3 linked regions of the Homo sapiens genome follow. The protein of the gene in region 3 interacts with the protein of the main gene of each other region in a pairwise test. Each region holds a gene or a part of one and is shown on either strand. Other genes may lie near its edges. The genes, in order: PPIL6, BAZ2B and BIVM.

Region 1 (7,110 bases), on a different chromosome or scaffold from region 3:
CATCGTCACAGAGAGTTCTACTGGACAGTGCTGGCCTGGACTCCTCTCAGGCCCTCACCCCCGACTCTAACTTCTTTTTTTTTTTTTTTTTTGAGACAGTCTTACTCTGTCGCCAGGCTGGAGTACAGTGGCGCAATCTCGGCTCACTGCAACCTCTGCCTCCCAGGTTCAAGCGATTCTCCTGCCTCAGCCTCCCGAGCAGCCGGGATTACAGGCATCTGCCACCATGCGTGGCTAACTTTTTGTATTTTTAGTAGAGACGGGGTTTTACCATGTTGGCCAGGATGGTCTCGATCTCTTTTTTTTTTTTTTTTTTTCCTGAGACGGAGTCTCACCCTGTCACCAAGTCTGTAGTGCAGTGGTGCGATCTCCGCTCACTGCAAGCTCCGCCTCCCGGGTTGACACCATTCTGCCTCAGTCTCCCAAGTAGCTGGGACTACAGGCGCCTGCCACCACGCCCGGCTAATTTTTTGTATTTTTTTTAGTAGAGATGAGGTTTCACCGTGTTAGCCAGGATGGTCTCGATCGCTTGACCTCGTGATCGGCCCACCTCGGACTCCCAAAGTGCTTCTCTACTCTAACTTCTCAATGTCTTGAGTTTGTCCACTTATCACCTGCTCATCTGTACTGCTGATGCTTTAGAGCAGGACTTCATTTATGGCCTGTTATAACCATAGCTTCTTAAGTGGTCTTGCTACTTCCTTTTCATTCTTTGCCAATTCATTCCTCACTTCTGCTAAAGAGATTTTTTCTTCAAAATGAGAAGCTGGTTATGTCGCTCACAATGTAAAATTCTCCCATGGCCCCCATCACCTTTGCGTGAGGTTCCTGCTCAGCAGCATGGCACCCGCAGTCCATTGGGAGTTGGACCCTTGCTGACCCTCTTATCCGGCCTCCACCCTTTCCATTCTCCCCTAAGTACCAAGCTCTGCCCAGAACAGATGACTTGTAGATAAGATGCTCTCTTACTCCTCAGGGCCTCTCTGCGAAACCTCTTCACTCTTCCTAAAACTGATTTGACTCATTGTGATTTCTAGCTTCTCTATCTGGCTAACTTCTACGTGACATTTCACTCCTCAGCTCACCTTCTCATGAAACTTTCCATGACCCCCTCCCACCTTACAAGTCTCTTAAAATGAAATAATTCCCCCTCCCCCAAACCCCTTCTACAATGGGTGCACGTGAATGGAGAGCTTACAGGCTTGTTTTGTGATATTCTTTCCCTATGAGCCCACTGGGCCAGCCATGCTCTGTGGATTGCTACAGTCTTTCCTGAAGGACATTCCCAGTGTCATCCATCTGAGAGAGCGGCAGGTTCATGTACCTGGAAACTGGGCTTGGAAGGAGTGCCTGTCTTGGATCAGAGAGGAATATTCTTTATCTCTCTGGACCTTGCTAACCATGTCTGGGCTTCCAAAAGCTCAGACACACCTGGGGATACTGAGAGATGATAGGGAAGAGGCAGCCCTACAACTGGGAAGGAAGGTATCCCTGAAGGAGTTCTATTTCATTAGTTTAACTAGATTATCTAGTTGCCTATTATGTTTTACATTTCTGCTTCTCCCTTAGCACTCTGTAAGGTCTTATTTAAATATTCCAGCCCAGCCCCAACTGTGATTTGGAGACTTTGTTTTTAATTTGGAGATTTAAGGAATACACTGAGATCATACTTGAGGCAGAATAGCAGAATAGAAGGAGGGCAGTGCCTCCCTGAGGACAGAGTGGTGATAACAAAAATTAGAGATTTCTCCAAGAGGAAGGTGGATCATAGAGAACAGGAACCATCAAAAGGAGACCGAGTGCTCTCCACTCCATTGCCGCCCTGTAACGCTCTGTGTTCGCTTTGGTGAAGGGAGTTGGAGGGTGTTTTCTTACCCATCTCCCAATGCACCCTGTACACAGTTTGCATGGCCCATGTCTCACTGTCACATAGCTATTGGCTATTTGACCTTGTTTTCATAACATACTCTAAGCTCGCTGAAGAGCAGGGATTGTACCTTGTCGCTCTTTTTCCCCAGCACTGAGTACCATGAATGGCATACTGCAGGTGCCTAAAGAAATTCTGCTTGAATGAGTTGGGAAAACAGCAGAAGTGAAGGCTGAACAAAGGATGTGGGGCCAGAGGACCTGGAATGCCACTCTAGACTTCAGGCTGTGCAGATGTGGAGGTGGTAATGGAGGCACTAAATGTTTTAAAGTAGTCATGTTTGTGTTTGAGAAAGGTACCTTTAGCTGAGATATAAAAGATCACCAGGAAGTTGGTAGAGGACAGAGACTGTCAGCAACATGACAGAGATTTAAATGGTCCAAGAAATGTTATTTGGATTTAAATGATTCAAGAAATGTTATTTGGATTTAAAACTTTTTTTTTTTTTTTTAAATGGTGTCTCACCCTGTCGTCAGACTGGAGTGCAGTGGTGCGATCTCGGCTCACTGCAACCTCCCCCTGCTGGGTTCAAGCAATTCTCCTGCCTCAGCCTCCTGAGTAGCTGGGACTACAGGTGTGTGCCACCATGCCCAGCTAATTTTTGTATTTTTAGGAGAGATGGGGTTTCACCATGTTGGCCAGGATGGTCTTGAACTCCTGACCTCATGATCTACCCGCCTTGGCCTCCCAAAGTGCTGGGATTACAGGCGTGAGCCACCGCGTCCAGCCTTAAAACTAATTTAATAATGCATTTTCGAAATCAGAATACAATTTATTGGGGACCAGGGAAAACTTAAGACAAGTCATTGTTTTACGTTATGCATCTATTAATGTAATGTTATCTCTTTAAAGATATCCTATGGATGAAAATACACTTTCTATTTTTTCAACCTGGAAGTATCACAGAAAGCATTACACTAAAGGAATTACTGTGGTTAAAATGAACACTGGCATGACATTCCAGGTGCTGGAGAGTCAATAATTATCCCTATGGAGTGGGTGGAATAAATCTAACAGTTATTCAGAAAAATACAAACACTTTACATTATCTCAGGGAAGAAGAAGTAAGCCCTGCCTCATATTCACTCAGTAATTAAAGAGAGAGATGAAACACTGGAGTGATGAAAAGTATTTCTATCATCCATTTTAGGTCCACATGGCTTTAAGCATCTTGCTAATAATATTCTAATAATAACTATTACCTGTGATGTTTTCATATTTAAAATCGTTCAGTAAAAAAAGTTATATGTAACTTGAATAGTTTTCATCTACCTCTTCATGATGTCCATGGACAATTATTGAAATGACTTCACCTCTTCACTTCTACATATTAGTATATTATTAAGCACTGTGGTATGATTCATAGTAATAAAGAATTGATAATATCCTTAAGGCTGAAGATTTGATAGATGGATAGATAGAGACACAGAAAGAACATTATTGTGACTATGCCTAAATGGTTTCTGTTTTTATTTTTTTATTTTGTCTTATATATTTTTTGAGGTAGGGTCTCATTCTGTTGCCCAGGCTGGAGTGCAGTGGCACAATCATGGCTCCCAGGCTCAAGCAATCCTCCCACCGAAACTTCTTCAGTAGCTGGGACTACAGGCACACACCACCACACCCAGCTAATTTTTATTTATTTATTTATTTATTTATTTATTTAAGACAGAGTCTTGCTCTGTCGCCCAGGATGGAGTGCAGTGGCACGATCTCGGCTCACTGCAACCTCTGCCTCCTGGGTTCAAGCAATTATCCTGCCTCAGCCTCCCGAGTAGCCGGGACTACAGGTGCATGCCACCACGCCTGGCTAATTTTTTGTATTTTTAGTGGAGATGGGGTTTCGCCATGTTGGCCAGGCTGGTCTGGAACTTCTGCCCTCGAGTGATCTGCCTGCCTCAGCCTCCCAAAGTGCTGGGATTACAGGTGTGAGCCACTGCACCCGGCCTATTTATTTATTTTTGAGACAGAGTCTTGCTGTGTCACCCCGGCTGGAGTGCAGTGGCATGATCTTGGCTCACTGCAACCACCTCCCAGGTTCATGTGATTCTCCTGCCTCAGCCTCCGGAGTGGCTGGAATTACAGGCACATGCCATCATGCCTGACTAATTTTTGTATTTTTAGTAGAGACGGGGTTTTACCATGTTGGGCAGGCTGCTCTGGAACTCCTGGCCTTAAGTAATTCACCTGCCTTGGCCTGCCAAAGTGCTGAGATTACAGGCATGAGCCACCATGCCAAGCCAGATAATTTTTAATCTTTTTGTAGAGATGGGGTCTCGCTATGTTGCCCAGGCTGGTCTTGAACTCCTGGGCTCAAGCAATCTCCCACCTCAGCCTCCAAAAGTGCTGGGATTATATGCCTGAGCCACTGTGTCTGGCCAGTTTCTGTGTTTTTATAGATAGCAAACTTCTTGCAAAATATTTCTTAAATACTTTTGTCTCTATTTGTATTATTTTTGCATTTAAGCCCTATTTTTAGCTACCTATACACTATATACAATACTTATCCAAATATTTTTAAATGACATTTTTACAGGTGTGAATATTATATAAATAGATCTACAATATACATACCCAAAAGCCACAAATTTTCTATCTAGATAAGGAGTTGCTTGCAGTGTGATATAGAATTGTGACCCGTTGCTGTGACGGCCTTTGTTGGCCATTCCAAGTACTCCTCTTTTATTATGAGGAACTGAAAAGTTTTCATCTAGGAAAGACAATAATCAGTAGGTCATTAGCACATTTCTATTATCTCAATTTATTGTAACATATAAGGAACAAATAGAACCCTTGGTAACACTCTCAATCATATTTATCAATGGATTCCAAATTGTAAATATTCTATTCATTTCAAATTATTTTCAAACATGCAAATGGGCTGTTTAAAAAAACCTGTAAAACCTTATTAGAACTATTGGAACATTCAGCTTTAGTTTGTCTTTACCATAAACAAGTGTGCTAAGAAAATTAATAATGTACAAGGAAATATATACAGTATTCTAATCAAGAATAAAGGTCAGCAAACTTTCTCGTGCTGTTTTGGTATTTCTTTCAAACTACCACCATACTCATTAAAAACACCTCCTCTGAGAAGTCTTTTGTGGACCTGACCTTTCCCCCGAACCCCCCAAGCATCTTACACATCGTTCTTGGACAGTCCTTATAACACTCGATGTAATTATTGGTTTACATGGCATTTCTTCTCTAGTAGGTGAAGGCAGGAACCTTGTCTCCTCATGGCTTTAGCTCCAGGCTTCTCAGCACATTAATTGGCATAAATGTGGCCCTAAATGTTTGGGCAGATTTCCATTCCATGTACTTTCCCATTCCATGTAGTTTAAAAATGTTGATGATGAAAGGAAATTAATTGTTTATTTTTAGTGATCTTCAAATAAAATTTTTTTTTTGTTTTTTGAGAGGGAGTCTCGCTCTGTCGCCCAGGCTGGAGTGCAGTGGTGCGATCTCAGCTCACTGCAAGCTCCGCCTCCCGGGTTCACGCCATTCTCCTGCCTCAGCCTCCCGAGTAGCTGGGACTACAGGCGCCCGCCACCATGCCCGGCTAATTTTTTTTTTTTTTTTTTTTTTTGTATTTTTAGTAGAGACAGGGTTTCACTGTGTTGGCCAGGATGGTCTCAATCTCCTGACCTCATGATCCGCCTGCCTCGGCCTCCCAAACTGCTGGGATTACAGGCGTAAGCCACCGTGCCTGGCCAATCTTCAAATAAATTTTAATCTGAAACCTTATTTGGATTGACCAAGATTTTGTGGAAAGCAATAGCTTTTTTAGTGTAAGATTTAGAAGTAAAAAGAGTTGTATGGTGATTATTAGGCTACCAATTTGAAGACGTACCATTCCCAGCTTTGCCTCCAAGTTCAAATACACAGAAGGAAATAATGGATGAGAAATTCAGTGAATTTTTTCATTCAATAACTTCATAAATTTCTGAGAATAACTGAGAAATATGAATATTAACTGTCTATAAGATTTTATTAAACTGCAACTGCTGTTATTAAGTTTCAAAACTAAGCAAACTAAGTGATTAAGCCATATCTGGGTAGTTACTTTCAGCCTGGTAAGTTGAAAACTGAATAAAGACCCCTGAAACCTTATGAAATGCTGATGAGGCATGTTTGTACAAATGAGTCTATATAATTACGCTGATGCTCCTTATTCATTTCAGTGAAATAAAGAAAAAAACTCATAATTTCACAGAAAATTGCATGAAATGGAAATCTGCCCACAGCAAAGACTCAGAGAGTTTTTCTTTTTTTTTTTTGTGAGATGGAGTCTCGCTCTGTTGCCCAGGCTGGAGTGCAGTGGCGCGGTCTTGGTTCACTGCAAGCTGCGCCTCGGGTTCATGCCATTCTCCTGCCTCAGCCTCCCTTAGTAGCTGGAACTACAAGCGCCCACCACCACGCCCGGCTAATTTTTTGTATTTTTAGTGGAAACAGGGTTTCACCGTGTTTGCTAGGATGGTCTCTATCTCGTGACCTCGTGATCTACCCGCCTCGGCCTCCCAAAGTGCTGGGATTACAGGCGTGAGCCACCGCGCCCGGCCCAGATTCAGAGAGTTTTAACAGAATGGTATTTGTCATTGCTTTTACATATTCTGATTTATTTTTCTTAAATTCTTTAAAAATTGGGAAAGAAAATTGATGAGTTGTAACATTTTTATAAAAAATTCTGTGATTGTGGGATAATTTTAAAGCAGTTAATCATAATACCTATCAAAGAAACTGCTACCTATGTGAAAACCCATGTATAAAACAGTGCAAAAAGTGCCTAGAGCAGCCAGGCACAGTGCCTCATGCCTGTAATCCCAGCACTTTGGGAGGCCAAGGTGGGTGGGTCGCTTGAGGCCAGGAGTTCGAGACCAGTCTGGCCAACATGGCAAAACCCCGTCTCCACTAAAAACACAAAAATTAGCTGGGTGTGGTGGTGCATGCCTGTAATCCCAGCCACTTAGGAGGCTTAGGCACAAGAATCGCTTGAACCCAGGAGGCGGAGGTTGCAGTGAACTGAGATTGCGCCAATGCACTCCAGCCTGGATGACAGAGAAAGACTCGGTCTCAAGAAAAAAAAAAAGTGCCTAGAGCCCTCTCATCTCCTGAACACATTTATTTAGGACAGCATGGAAATCCTTAGAGACAATTTGAGAACCATTGCTATAAAGGGACAG
Region 2 (7,110 bases), on a different chromosome or scaffold from region 3:
TTTTGAAAATTAGAGAGTAAGATTAATGAAAAGCAAAATAATTCAATGTTGCTACATAATTCTAAGTTTATTCCAACATATATAATGATTAAGAAGAATATGTGTACATGGTTTTCTTTTTAAGGAAAAAGAGCGGTTGAAACAAGAAAAACGTGATGAGAAAAGATTAAATAAAGAGCGTAAACTAGAGCAGCGAAGATTAGAATTAGAAATGGCAAAGGAACTAAAGAAGCCTAATGAAGACATGTGCTTAGCAGACCAAAAGGTAATTTATACGTCATGTACACCATTTCATTCATAAGTTTAATTTTTCCAGTTTTCTTACCTGATTTCTTTGCCAGAGCTGCTATTGTGAAAGCCTTTCATTTTTAACTATAGCAGTGAATTTCCAACTCTAGGTCAATTTGCCTTTCCTAGATAGCTAGAAGTAAACCTCTCTGGAGCTCTTGTGCTGGTAATGGCGGTTTTTTTGTTTGTTTGTTTGGTTGGTTGGTTGGTTGGTTGGTTGGTTGGTTGTTTTCAGACAGGGTCTTACTCTGTCATTTAGGCTGGAGAGAGGGCAGTGGCAGGATTATAGCTCACTGAAGCCTCAACTTCTCGTTCCCAGGCTCAAGTGGTCCTCTCACCTCAGTCTTCTGAGTTGCTGGGACCACAGGCGCTTGCCACCATGCCTGGCTAGTTTTTTGGGTTTTTGTTATTTTAATTTTTTGTAGCGGCAGACTCTTATGTTGTCCTGGCTGGTCTTGAACTCCTGGGCTCAAGTGATACAGCCACCTCAGCCTCCCAAAGTTCTGGGATTCCAGGCACAGAAAAATCTCAACTCCTCCCCACATCCCTATGGATATTTAAATAAATGAGGATTTATAATCTGTGACCTCCTTCAGTGCTTTAGGTGGCAAACCTTTATTGAACATGTTTACTACATGCTAGGACTGTGCTAAGCACTTATTTGAATTTTCTCATTTAATCCTCAATACAATCTTGTGGAGTTAGTATTTCTTCCCATTTATACATGAGAAAACTGAGACACAAAGAGGTTAAGGAACTTGCCCAAGATTACACAACTAATAAATGGCGATTTGGATTCAAACTCCAGTTTGTTAAACTCCAGAGCCTATACTGTTTATCATCCTGAAAGCCAAGAAACTGTGTCCAACCAAAGCACCTCATATGTGTTTTGTCTTCCATAGTGCTTCACAGACATGTAATGTTGCTGAAATACATAAAAGTATAAATTTAGAAACATTGCTGTAATCTTGGCAACCAGCATAATTTCATATACTTTTGAGTAAAAATCAATGATGTTTTGACTATAGTTAAGAAGATGGTACTTCTAGAAAAATATCAATAATGCATTTCATCTCTATATTATTATACTTAATTAGTAGGATATGTATTTACTTATATGCAATATTCAAATGATTTGCAAATAATGATTATCTCTTGATTTATGTAAGCTCTTTTTTTATTTTATTTTATTATTATTATACTTTAAGTTTTAGGGTACATGTGCACAATGTGCAGGTTAGTTACATATGTATACATGTGCCCTGCTGGTGTGCTGCACCCATTAACTCAATTATGTAAGCTCTTTTCTAAAGTGCTTAAAGAAAACTTTTAGTACTCTAGAATGGATTGAACTATATTAATATTCTATTTATTTACTTAGCATAAATGCTTCTAAATAAAAATGAGAGTATACTTACTAGTTGTAGTCATTTGGATATTTAAATTTTCCTAAGCAGAGAATGGGTATATAAATTAGTTAACACATTTAATAAGCTCATAGTGATCAAGCTTTTTAAATCCTAAGTGAGCTTCATTTTCTTGTATCTTTTATTTTCATTTAAATTCATATGTACTATATCAAATATGTAAGTCCATTTTAAGCCATATTTTTAATAGCTCAGCTTTGCTACATAAATTTTTAGAATTACATAGAAATGTATATGTTTCCTGTGGTTCAAGAAAAAGGGAGAATGAGAATTAACTGGCTTTCAAGAAGAATATAAAATATTTGTATGAGATGAGCTATTATCTATAGTTTTGTGTTTCCACACAGTATTAACAGAAAAAGTCTTCAATTGGTTACCTCAATAAATGCAGAGTGGAGAAATATTTTTGAACAAGGACCAATTCAGATAAATAGAAATATTTATGTCACTTTTTTTCCAATTAAAATTTAAAGTACTTTTTTAGGCTCTCATTAACAGGCAAAATGTTTTTAATTCAGATTACCTATTTATTGAAATTTTAAAATGTTGATGACAACTGGTACTGCAATTAAGTCATTAAAATGTTAATATGTGAGCATATTTGAGAAATAACAACAGAGATAGCTAATTTTAATACTGAAGCTAATACTTGCCTAAATACAGGGAAACCTAAAGACCTTTAGTTGCATTATAACTGGGTTTATGTACAGGGTCATGGATTCTAGTTATGTGGACCTAGTTATTTATCTGCATTCATTAGCCATAGATGGTACCACTTTCTCCAACCATAGAGCCCACAGATGCATGCTGTTTGTTTCTAAGCTACAAAAAAAGTGTGATTTTTAAATGTCATCATCATTAGAAGAAATTGGTGCACATGCCCCTATAAGTATGTCCATGGTAAAGTACTTTTGAAATGTTTATATTTTATTTAATTTTTGCTCCAGTTATATAATCCATGTTTTGTTAATATGGATATGTCAGTTGATTGAATATGCAAGTTGATTAAAATTAATGTCTCTTTTGCAAAGATCTAAGTTCATAATTGAGTTCAACCAAAATTTATTAATGGTTGCTTACTTGTATGAAGATACTTCAAGACACTATGCTTAGTTCCATGGGGGTTACAGAAATGCCCCCAGAGAATTTAGCATCCCAAAGGAAGCTACTGGTACAATACAAGAGGGGAAAAAAGGTAGCAGCTTATTTTACTTTAGAAGATACGAAATCATGGCTTTTAAAAAATTAAGCTGTTTTTATTTTATTTGTATTTCATTTTATTTTCAGCCTTTGCCAGAGTTGCCTCGTATTCCAGGACTTGTTCTCTCTGGAAGTACATTTTCAGACTGTCTCATGGTGGTGCAGTTCTTACGAAACTTTGGTAAAGTTTTGGGCTTTGATGTGAATATTGATGTTCCAAACCTGAGTGTTCTTCAAGAGGGATTGCTAAATATAGGGGACAGCATGGGTGAAGTACAAGACTTGCTTGTGAGGCTCCTCTCAGCTGCTGTATGTGATCCAGGTCTAATAACAGGATACAAGGTAAAAAAAAACAAAATATAAAATGTTTTAAATTTGTACTGTCAGTGCATTGGTAGATAGCTTTAGCATATTAGCAGAAGATTATATAGATTGATCTAATTTTTCCACATAATGTCTCACAAAGTTAACTGTAGATTTGTGTCAGGTTACACTTCATACAAAGAAAACCTGGTTATAAAGCTTAAGGAATGTAGACCATTCTCAAGTTATTCTTTTTTCCTCTAGCTGTAGGCAAAGACCAAGGTGATTTAAGGAAATCCTTAAGCGATATTCATCAACAACAGAATTCATAATTCATAAGGCAACTAGAACTTGTATGTGCCTTCTGATATTATACCTTGTTCTCTCTCAATCACTGTGAATAACTGAAGCTAATCAAGGCACCTACAGACCAGCACGTTAAGACCCTGTGCTGCTCAGTGGATCCTCAATAAGTTCATGTTTATCTTAATTCCAAATACAGTATACATTCCAGGGAGCTTTGCTCTAGATAATATTGTGGAGAGAGAACCTCCCAGATGCACCTGTTTTTCTTCTATCTCCCTCAGTGTTTCCCTATTTATTATCCCCAGCCAGTAAAACCTATAACACTTTAAGGGTAGAAAACAATACTGTTTTTTAACCTCCCCACTCTGTCATTCCTGATAAAATATCCAGATGAAACTTGGGGAAAGGTTGGTGTCGCTTTTATAGTCATGGAAGGCTTGATAGGTAATTTAAAACTTCTGCTACCCATGAATTTGCATACTCTTCTCCCTGCCTGACTTGGAACCAAGGATTTGAAGCGGGGAAAGAAAGAAACAAATACTTGAATATTTGTCTGTCTTCTATTGACTATTTTTGTGTCTCTTTCATTAAAAAAAAAGTGAATAAAGCTCTTGTCAGTAGTATCTAAATCAAATAATATGAGGATTTTTAATCTTATTGTTTTTATGGTATAAATGGTTGTGAGTAATACTGATAAAAATGCCAAACTTTTATAGGCTAAAACAGCTCTTGGAGAACATTTGCTGAATGTTGGTGTGAATCGAGACAATGTTTCCGAGATTTTACAGATATTTATGGAAGCCCACTGTGGACAAACTGAGCTTACTGAAAGTCTGAAGACCAAAGCTTTTCAGGCTCACACTCCAGCACAGAAAGCTTCAGTCCTGGCTTTCCTGATCAATGAACTGGCATGCAGCAAGAGTGTGGTCAGGTGAGCATATGCCCAGGCTTTTCCGTGATTTTTCCATTTTGAATTTTTCTAATCAAAAAGTAATACAAATTGATTATAGAAAATTGGAAAGTTACAGACTAGCACAAAGAAGAAAATTAAAATTGTACTTATCTCAGTATTTAGAGATGGCCACTAATAATATTTTCATGTATTTCTTTGTAGTGTATTGAAAAAAAATTTGGATTATACTGTGTGTCTGTAATACGTGGTCTTTGTCACCTGTTTTGTTTAATAATTCTGTTAATTCTTTATACATAACTTTTTTTATATTTTTAGTTGCTATGGTACCAGAATGTGGTACCACCACAAGAATACAGAATTTTTTTTTCCTTCACGTCTTTTAAGGACAGATGACTACCTGATTTTGCTTAGTAGCCATTCACAGAATTACGTAGCCACTTTTTATTTTGTTGTATGCTAATAGAACCATAGAGTATTTATTTATCAGTGTATTAATTTATACTTTTTTAAAGCATTTGATCCTATTTAAAAGTCAGAGTTCTCACTCTAGTACTTGTTACTAGTAAAATACTAATACCAACATGTACTCTAGTATTCAGGATTTCTGAACAAATTCATGTTCATCTTGTCCTTGTTATTCATTATTTTACAGATTTTTAACAACTTTTAGTCCTTTACCTTTCTAGAAAAAGGATCAATCCAAATATTCGGGGTCATGCATTTCTACCAGTGTGGAAATTTTAAGTTTTCTGTACCTATCTTAGCTATGATATTGTATTAATGTAATTTTTTGTTTGTTTCTGCTATTCACTGACAGTCATCCTAAAAAATATAATAATATTCACGTCTTACAATTTTATGAAAGAATAATTTCATTTAAGCATGAGCATGATAACAAATAGTAATGCTAAGTGGCACTTATTCAAAACACATACACCCAAATTCAATGTAAATGGTACACTATGGTTTTTGCCTTAGAAGGGAAAAAGCATCCCTATTTGACTTTACTGGTAAAGTAAAACAGAATGGTAAAGAATATCATAATATTCTTAGTTACTGTTTGGTTGTTTATATATATACACTTAGTGTATATGCATATGTATGTATGTGCACTTATGTAAATATCCATGTGTGTTCTGGTATCCTGCTTTGATTTTGGAAATTATCACATCTTAAAATACCTGCAACAAAACTTGGAATATTGTCTTTCTAAGGCAATTGATGCATAGTTTCTTTCTTGGTTTAAGATAGAAACCACAGTGAATTTTCTAATACTAATGTTGTATCCATTGAAGAAGTTATCACTTTTCAACATCTGTGTATACATATATAAACACATACATATATGAACGTGTATATGCATGAGGTCAGTTGTATCATTTTTACTTATTCAAAAATGCATTAATTTACGTATCAAGTTTATTGCATATCAAATTAATGCATTGCATAAATTGATTAATTTACACTTTTTAATAAATTCTTGCATTGGCAGTGAAATCGACAAGAACATTGATTATATGTCAAACTTGAGGAGAGATAAATGGGTGGTAGAAGGTAAACTCCGCAAGTAAGTCCTGTTTTATTAAAGTTAATGTACTGTTTTCTTTTTCTACAAATTCCCAGTAAAGCATATGAATTGCAAAGATAGAATTTAAACTTTTATTGTCTAAAGAAAAGATAATGCTCAATTTAGATGGGATATAAAATTAATAAAACTCAGGGGCAGAATTTGCAATGGACAAAAGATATAATGAGATTCATTGAGCTTATATTCTTCATACTTAGAAGAAAGTCATTTTCTCTTTTTCTTTTAAACAAGTCAAGCAATTACATTTTCTAAGATTGTGGTTGCTATTAAGTTGCTTTTATCACAAACAGAATGTTTGGAACTGTAACTTGTTTTCTTAATTGCTTTCTAATTAAAATTTGCTTTTACGGAATCTAGCTAAACTTATTCAGCATTAAAACTTAATTATCTTCCTGCCAGAAAATATCAGGCAGAAATTACTCCTATGTTAAGAGGTTAGTTTCTTTGTAGTAATTTGAATTGAAATTTATTCAGTCAGTTAGTATGGGATCAGAAATTATTACTCAGCCATTGTTAGAATTCTTCTTTTCAACTTTCATCATTTTTTTTAATGAGTCTAATTCCAAAGAGATATCTAGAATAACTCTTGAAAGTGAATGCATCCTGTAATTTATGGAAACATTTCTTAAGTTTCCTAATTCTAATTTTTTTTAACATTGGTATATCGCTTAACACAAAAGAAATGCCATAAGGTATTTTTGCATACAACTCATGTTTTGCTCTTTTAAAAGTATATTGAGAAGTCTTTTTTTCCTTGTCATCACTTTTCATAATATTTAAAGGCTCAGAATCATTCATGCTAAGAAAACAGGCAAAAGAGACACTTCAGGTGGCATTGATCTGGGAGAAGAGCAGCATCCCTTGGGCACACCCACTCCAGGACGCAAGCGAAGAAGGAAGGGAGGAGACAGTGATTATGACGATGATGATGACGATGACAGTGATGACCAAGGGGATGAAGATGATGAGGATGAAGAAGATAAAGAAGACAAAAAAGGAAAAAAGACTGATATCTGTGAAGATGAGGTAATGAAATTTAGGTTGATTTTAAGACAACTAGAACTGCATAACATATTTTTAAAAAC
Region 3 (7,683 bases):
TTGAGGTCAGGAGTTTGAGACCAGCCTGGCCAACATGTTGAAACCCCATCTCTACTAAAAATACAAAAAAGTTTAGCTGGGTATGGTGGTGTGTGCCTGAAATCTCAGCTACTCAGGAGGCTGAGGCATGACAATAGCTTGAATCTGGGAGGTGAAGGTTGCAGTGAGCGGAGATTGTGCCACTGTGCTCCAGCTTGGGGGACAGAGTGAGACTCTTGTTTCAAAAAATAAAAGAAAGACAACAGATACTTGGTTTATGTCTATGGTAATATTACAGCTCATTATTCCTTATGTTTTGCAGACTGAAGAATAACCAAATACTGGTAAAAGGGTATCAGAGGAGCATACCTATTTTAATGAAAGACAAAAGTGATATGATTTACTATTTTGATGGTCTGTTATACAAACAGGTTCTTAAAGTGTCTAAGGTACTTTTCTCAATAAGTAAATCATCAATAACAGCAAAAATAAACAAGGAACTGCTATTCTTTTTTTTTTTTTTTTTAAGAATTATTAAGGAGGAAAAGTAGGCTGGGTTCTTGGCTCATGCCTGTAATCCCAGCACTTTGGGAGGCTGAGGCGGGCGGATCACGAGGTCAGGAGATCGAGACCATCCTGGTCAACATGGTGAAACCCCGTCTCTACTAAAAATACAAAAATTAGCCAGGTGTTGTGGCGCGTCCCTGTAGTCTCAGCTATTTGGGTGGCTGAGGCAGCAGAATCGCTTGAACCCGGGAGGCAGAGCTTGCAGTGAGCCGAGATTGCACCACTGCACTCTAGGCTAGTGACAGAGCGAGACATCGTCTCAAAAAAAAAAAAAAAAAAAAAAGCAAAAGTAGCTGGGTACAGTGGCTCACGCCTGTAATCCTAGCACTTTGGGAGACTGAGGTGGGCAGATCACTTGAGCTCCAGGGTTCGGGACCAGTCTGAGCAACATGGCAAAACCCTGTTTCTACAAAAAATACAAAAATTAGTGGGGCATGGTGGTGAGTGCCTGTAGTCCCAGCTACTCATGCAGCTGAGGTGGGAGGATTGCTTGAACCCAGGAGGTCGAGGCTGCAGTAAGCAGTGATTGCACCACTGCACTCCAGCCTGGGCAACAGAGCGAGACCCTGTCTCAACAACAACGGCAACAAAAAGAAGCAAAAGTAATTCTCAAAACAGTCCACTTCACTAATTTTATAACAAATTAATTACAGTCTGCACTGAGGTTTTTACTGTTATTCCTTTTTATAATTCTCAGATCCCACCTAACCCAGGCAGTGGCTGACAATGGAATATCTTTTTAAGGTTTAGTGGGTGATACTGTACCAGGCTGTACTGGCAGAATGTAGGAAAGGAACCTAGACACTCTTGAAAAGTGTTTACCTTTTCTTACTTCTCTGCAGAGTTCACAAAAATAAAAAAAAAAAAGTTTACTTTTCTTGGGGTTGTTAAGGGGGGGACAAGATTTCTGCCTTTGTATATACACTGCTTCCCTACTGTCTTGTGGTACTGTCGCCTGTAAGAGGGAAGGAGATGGCTCTAGGTAATAAAACTGTACTCTCATCCTATATAAGAAACATCAGAATGGCCGAGCATGGTGGCTCACACCTGTAATCCCAGCACTTTGGGAGACTGAGGCAGGCAGATCATGAGGTCAAGAGATCGAAACCATCCTGGTCAACATGGTGAAATCCTGTCTCTACTAAAAATACAAAAATTAGCCTGGCATGGTGGTGCGTGCCTGTAATCCCAGCTACATGGGAGGCTAAGGCAGGATAATCGCTTGAACCCGGAAGGCGGAGCTTGCAGTGAGCCAAGACTGCGCCATTGCACTCCAGCCTTGTGACAGAGCGAGACTCTGCCTCAAAAAAAAAAAAAAAAAAATAAATAAATAAATAAATAAATAAATGTCAGAGAATTTCTCTGGGAAAATGGCATTGGAACAAAGACAAAAAAACAACCACCAGTGCGCTCCTTGTCTTTCGAGCTATCTCCCTTCCTGAAGTGATCTACCTAATTTCAATAACACTTATCAGTTACTTAAGTCATATATTTCCAATTAAGAAAGTATCATATATGAGCATGAACACAGCTTGATTATTCTTGCTAATGTATGTCTTCGCGGAGTAAATTCTCTACTAATATGTTCCTTGCTCTTTAGCAAATCAGAATTTCCGTTCAAATCTTGAATGTCTTTTTACCAGGACTCATAACTTAGCTTTCAAGTAGAAAGCCTTTATTTTTCTTCTTTCAGTAAAAAAAAAAAAAAAAATATATATATATATATATATATCATGCCAAGTTGTTTTTGTTGATGGAATAACATATATTATTTTATTCAAATACTGCTGTTATAAAATTATATTCCAAATTACCTTTTAAAATATATGGGGATTTGGCCACATGTTGCCCTTGGAATTTAATTTCCACCTTCAGATTTTTGTAGCTTGCATACATTCTGTATCTTACTATGAAGGACCCATCTTTTCGGTCTAAAACCTGGACTCCAACTCTAGTGAATTGCTCCTCTGGTGCTGAGACTTTCACCTGGAAGACCTTTTCGCCTGGAGAAGATGTGAATCTGTGATGAAAAGGCAATGGGGGAGATAAACAGATTTTAACGAACAAACACACAAAGGTTATGCTCTTCAGTCTGGAAACTTGATTATTCTCCTCCACATTCTTCCTCTAACATATGATTGCTTCTTCTTCTCTTATGCTTTTAGTACCAGAATGAATATGATGGATCAGAGATTTAAAAAAATGAGGATGACAATGGCCAAGATAACATGAAACAGTTTCATTAAACAGTCACAATGGAGTATGTTAAGACTATTAATCTATATAAGCACAGAACATACTCATGCATTCCATATGGAAAAATATTCTTACTAACTTATTTCATGCTATCACATCTGGATATTTGTGATCAAATGATGCTCCCAAAGATAATGATCTTATTTTGAAAAATCTCTGCCAATGAATCTTTACAATATCAGTATTATAAATCACGCTCAGGCCTGGCACTGTGGCCCATGCCTACTATCTCAACATCTTGGGAGGCCAAGGAGGGAAGACTGCTTGAGGCCAGGAGTTCGAGATCAGCCTGGGCAACAAGGTGAGATCCTGTCTCTACAAATAATAATAATAATAATAAAAAACAAATAGCCAGGCGAGGTGGCACACGCCTGTAGTCCCAACTACTAGGGAGGCTGAGGTGGGAGGATAGCTTCAGCCTGGGAGGTTGAGGGTACAGTGAGCTGTGATTGCACCACTGCACTCCAGACTAGGCTAGGAAGTGAAACCCTGTCTTAAAAAAAAAAAACTCACGCTCAGCCATGGGCAAAAGCAAAGTAGTAGGTAGTGTATCATCTTTTGCCAAATAACAAAATTTACAACCTGCCTTTTACTTGACAACCTTTTATTCCAGTATTTTTTTCTGTATGAAATACACACAGTCAGCATCCACCAATAATAGAGACAATCATTTCAGAAGTATAGGAATTATAAAAATAAGTTTTAAGTATGATGTTAAAGTATTAAATTCATTGGAACAAAATATTTGTTACAATCATATAGGAGATTAATACTTCGATACTTTCCTTCCGAACTCTGAAGTTTCAAATAGTACTTCATTTTTCTTTTTCAGTTTCAAAACATGCTTACCTGCAGATGTCTCCTTGAAAATTGAGGGCCGCACCAGAGAAAGATGAAGCCCATCAAGTCTCTAACAACTAGGTTTAAATCCCTTATAATAGCTTATGCGAAAAGTAGTTAGAAACAGTATTTCCAGCAAAGTGGAGGGACTTTGTCTTGCCCTGATAATGTGGGAATCTGAATCAAAATTGCTAGGAGATTATTTTATATGTTATATACAATACATTATATTGCATATATTATAATTCGGAACAATTTCTACAGCTACAGAGAAAAATGGGTAACCAAATATCCTGGAATATAAACTGCTGTGGAGAAACGAGTTCTTGGAAAGAAAAATCTTAAAGGGAGAAACAGATTTAACCGCCATCCAAAATAGGTAAGGAGCCGTTTCTCGACTTACTTATTCCCTGATGTATCCACTGCCTGAATATAGAAATAGCGGGCGGGAAGGACGACGTCTGCTTTTAGCCCGGGTCCCCATATTTCGCTCTTCTCCGGGCTCAGCTGCCTTTCTCCGCCGGTCTCGGCGAGTGCTGGAACTGTCGCCAGAAAGAAGCAATAAAGTAGCAAAGTGCCAAACATTTACAAGACGGACTCTCGAAATGATCCACCGATAAATGAAGAAGTGTAAGAGGTGGACAGAAGCAGCCGAGCCTTCGGCAGGGACCCGCCGGCCGATCGCAGCAGCCAACGCGACTGCAAAGGTTGCCGCCCGGCGTGCAGGGCAGGCGCGCGGGTCTCCGCGACCCCAGGACAATCAAAGCCCGTGCCCCGGCGCGCCCAGGTGAGGGTCCCCTGGCGTTCTGCTGTCCCGGCCGAGAACCGCGCTGCTCCTCTCTCTCAGGACAATGATGAACTTGAGTTGCTCCTGCCACTGGAGCATCATTTGGGAGCGAATCCGTCTCAGGTTCCAGCCAAGGTGTAGGGCGAGGGGATTGGCCCGTGCGTCGGGCCAGGCTCAGTAACGCCTTCTCCAAGTGGATGGCGGGGTGGACACGCGTCCCGGCGCCCCGGGCTCCCTGGGATATGTAGTTCGCGACAGGACGAGCGGAAATACTGCCAGGATTTTACCACCTCTCGCCCATTTATTTACTTCTCGGTCACCGCTTTCGGGGGACAGATAAACACCACAGATGCCCATCAAAGGGGCGCACGGGTCTGGAGGCGCAGCTCAGGTTTTTGCGTTGGTCACCCTGCCCTCCGCACGTGGAGAGGGCAGGCATAAAGCACCTTGAAAGGAAGGTGCTGTCAATGCTATCCGACGACCTGTCGCCGGGCACCGCAGCATCCTCGCTCGCTCCGATGGGACGAGGGACGCCGGCCCCAGGGTAACAGGAGGCGCCTCGCCGGCCGCGCGCTGGATGCTGTGATCCAGGTCCGGAGCCGGGTTCCGCCGCGGCCGCAGCGACCCGACCCCACCCGACAGGCCAGAGGTACCCCGGGGCGGGGGGCAGGGGCCGAGGTGGCGGCCGGCTGTGCGCTCTGAGCGCCTGGCCCTCCGCTGGGCACCTGGGCGCCGCCAGCCCGGCCTGCTGCCGCTCTACGCGCAGCCACCTGGGCATTCAAAATTTTTACTTAATTCGATACCGGCCTGGGCTGCCAGGGGTCATCGCCTCTCCGAGCCCCGTGGCGTCCAGATGGAGGCCACTGCATGGGTGCGCGCTCTCCCGGGAAGGAGTAGGGGGAAGAGCTGTGTCGCGGGGGGAAGAGAAGCGCCAGGGAAAGAAGGGCCTAGCCCTCTGGTGAACAAAGCTCGATTAGGAGGTGTCCATGTGGATACCGGTGACCCCTGTGCGGCCGTCGGTCTCCACGCCACGCTGGGCAGGGTCCGGGAACCAGCGCGCAGCGGCCGTCGCCTTCCCCTGCACGCCAGCACCCGGGTCTGGGCCGCCGCCAGGAGTCACGGGCTCACCGCCCTGGTCAGCTTGGCAGTCGGACCCGGAGCCGCCTCCTCTGCCTGCCTCCCTCTTGCCAGCTGCCCCGAAAACCCAGAAGAGCCGGTGGCTCCGAGCCAAGGCGGGCCTGGTTCGGCGCCAGGAAAGGGGGTTTCTTTCCTATTTTCTTTTGTGCAATTGTCATTATTAATGATACCGACTCGTTTACTCAAACAGTCGAATCGGAGCCCCAGCTCTTAGCCCGGATGCAGCAATTGCCCGTGGGCCCCCTTTAACACCAACAGCGTCCCCGGGGCCCGGGGCAAGCATGTTCGAGGCGGTCACCCCCGGGCCTCGGCGCGCTCCCCCTGGCGGAGAGCCTCGTCTTCCGGCCGGTGAGGGAAGGTAGAGGAGGGAGTAGGGGCGAGGAGGCCTCGGCGGCCCTTGGGCTCTGCGGGCTGGGGACTCGGGGTGCCCGCGACACGCGCGGAGGCGCGGGCTGGGTTGGCCACGGGCAGGGAGCGCAGCCGCGCTCCTTCCTCTCTGCCCGCGTCGCCTCCGCGCGCACTGGTTCTGCGCGGCGGGGCTTGGCCTGCGCGACTGTCTACTCCGTCCCGGCGGCCTCGGAGCCCGGCCGAGCGGCGAGCTTGTCAGAGGACGGTGGTGGAAACGCTCCCGGCCTCCCCAGGGGCGCGGGCTGGAGGCTGGCGCCAGGCGCGGAGGACTCCCGGTATCTTTTGACAGGCTGGCGCCTCGGCTCTGGGGACCCGCAGGTCTGAAGGGGAGGAAGGGGCCTGGAGGGCGCGGGAGGACACCGGGTGGGAAGGGTGGCATTAGCTCGGCCGGGGGCTATGCGCCTCTGGTTTCGCCCTCCCGCGCATATTCGACCCTTACGAGGTCACCGGAATGCCCCTGCTCCTCAGTTGCCTTCTATACAGGATATCGATCAGGGTATTTTGTTATACGAAAAGGCTTTACTGAAGAGGTTTTTAGAGATGTTTGGTTCTCTCATAAACTTGATACTTGAGAATACAGACAAAATATAACCTGAAAAGACTACAACCTAGGCGATGAAGATTGGCTTTACAAATGGACGTTTATTTTACAGAACACTTCGTTCAGTGACTTTGAACAATCATGACTCTGGCGGTGCTTTTTAAACTTGCCATTTTATAAATTTTTGCTTTGCATACGAGCAAACCATATTTCTATTGCTTATGACATGATTTTATGAGTAAGCTATTAGTTGAGCCTGAGGTCCTGCAGTCATTCTTAGTAGTAAATTTTTTTTTTTTTTTTTTTGAGACGGAGTTTTGCTCTGATCGCCCAGGCTGGAGTGCAATGGTGCAACTGTAACCTCCACCTCTGGTGTTCAGCGATTCTCCAGCCTTGCCTCCTGAGTAGCTGGGCCTACACGCATGCGCCACCATGCACGGCTAATTTTGTATTTTTTTATTTTTTATTTTTTTTTAGTAGAAACGGGTCTCACCATGTTGGCCAGGCTGGCCTCAAACTCCTGACCTCAGATGATCCACCCGCCTCAGCCTCCCAAAGTGCTGGGATTACAGGTGTGAGCCACCACGCCGGCTTAGTAAATCTTAATATAGCAACACCTCACTTGCCTGGAAGAGGGAACCGCAATCAATCAAAATGAGGGCCTACAGTAATGCCTGGCATGATGCAAACACTTAAAAATTATCTGTTGAATGAGACGTCTACAAATCCTAGGCCCTGGGGATACAATAATCTGGAAAACCAGACTTGCAGGATGCAGACGTTGATCATATGAACAGATATGCACAGAAGTAAGTGTAAAATTGCCACCTGGTAAGACCTGTGTGAGGAAGGTACTAGAGTCTGTACCGGGTCACCTGGCCTAGTTTGAGAAGCCAAGAAGGTTTCCCCCAGAAAGTGACATTTGAGCTGACATTGGAAAGATGAATGGGAATGAGCTAAGTAAGGGAGACAGTATTGGGAGAACCAAAAAGTAATGTGGAGCTTGGGGGGTGGGGGAAAGGAATGAGATGGAGCTAACCAGATAGATCTAGGGACCATCAGGAGTTGGCCTTTTGTTCTAAGAGCAGAGGCTTTCAGGCAGAGGAGTTCTGTGATCATATATATGTAGCAAACTTTATTTTCTAATATCTCTGCACAGGTCAGGTTA

What was found.
Region 1: the proteins of BIVM (region 3) and PPIL6 interact in binary tests that used the Homo sapiens proteins (3 or more experiments, as listed by UniProt).
Region 2: the proteins of BIVM (region 3) and BAZ2B interact in binary tests that used the Homo sapiens proteins (3 or more experiments, as listed by UniProt).

The regions. Positions count from the first base shown.
Region 1 is NC_000006.12:109,395,534-109,402,643, forward strand, and holds part of PPIL6 (probable inactive peptidyl-prolyl cis-trans isomerase-like 6), read right to left. Parts: intron 4,638-7,110; coding exon 4,502-4,637; intron 1-4,501. UniProt on the Homo sapiens protein: Probable inactive PPIase with no peptidyl-prolyl cis-trans isomerase activity.
Region 2 is NC_000002.12:159,382,500-159,389,609, reverse strand, and holds part of BAZ2B (bromodomain adjacent to zinc finger domain protein 2B), read left to right. Parts: intron 1-124; coding exon 125-265; intron 266-3,002; coding exon 3,003-3,257; intron 3,258-4,240; coding exon 4,241-4,455; intron 4,456-5,929; coding exon 5,930-6,004; intron 6,005-6,807; coding exon 6,808-7,051; intron 7,052-7,110. UniProt on the Homo sapiens protein: Regulatory subunit of the ATP-dependent BRF-1 and BRF-5 ISWI chromatin remodeling complexes, which form ordered nucleosome arrays on chromatin and facilitate access to DNA during DNA-templated processes such as DNA replication, transcription, and repair.
Region 3 is NC_000013.11:102,794,444-102,802,126, forward strand, and holds the start of BIVM (basic immunoglobulin-like variable motif-containing protein), read left to right. Parts: upstream 1-4,675; 5' UTR 4,676-5,078; intron 5,079-7,683. Other genes in the region: POGLUT2 (protein O-glucosyltransferase 2 isoform 1 precursor), read right to left, coding at 2,361-2,566, 4,046-4,227.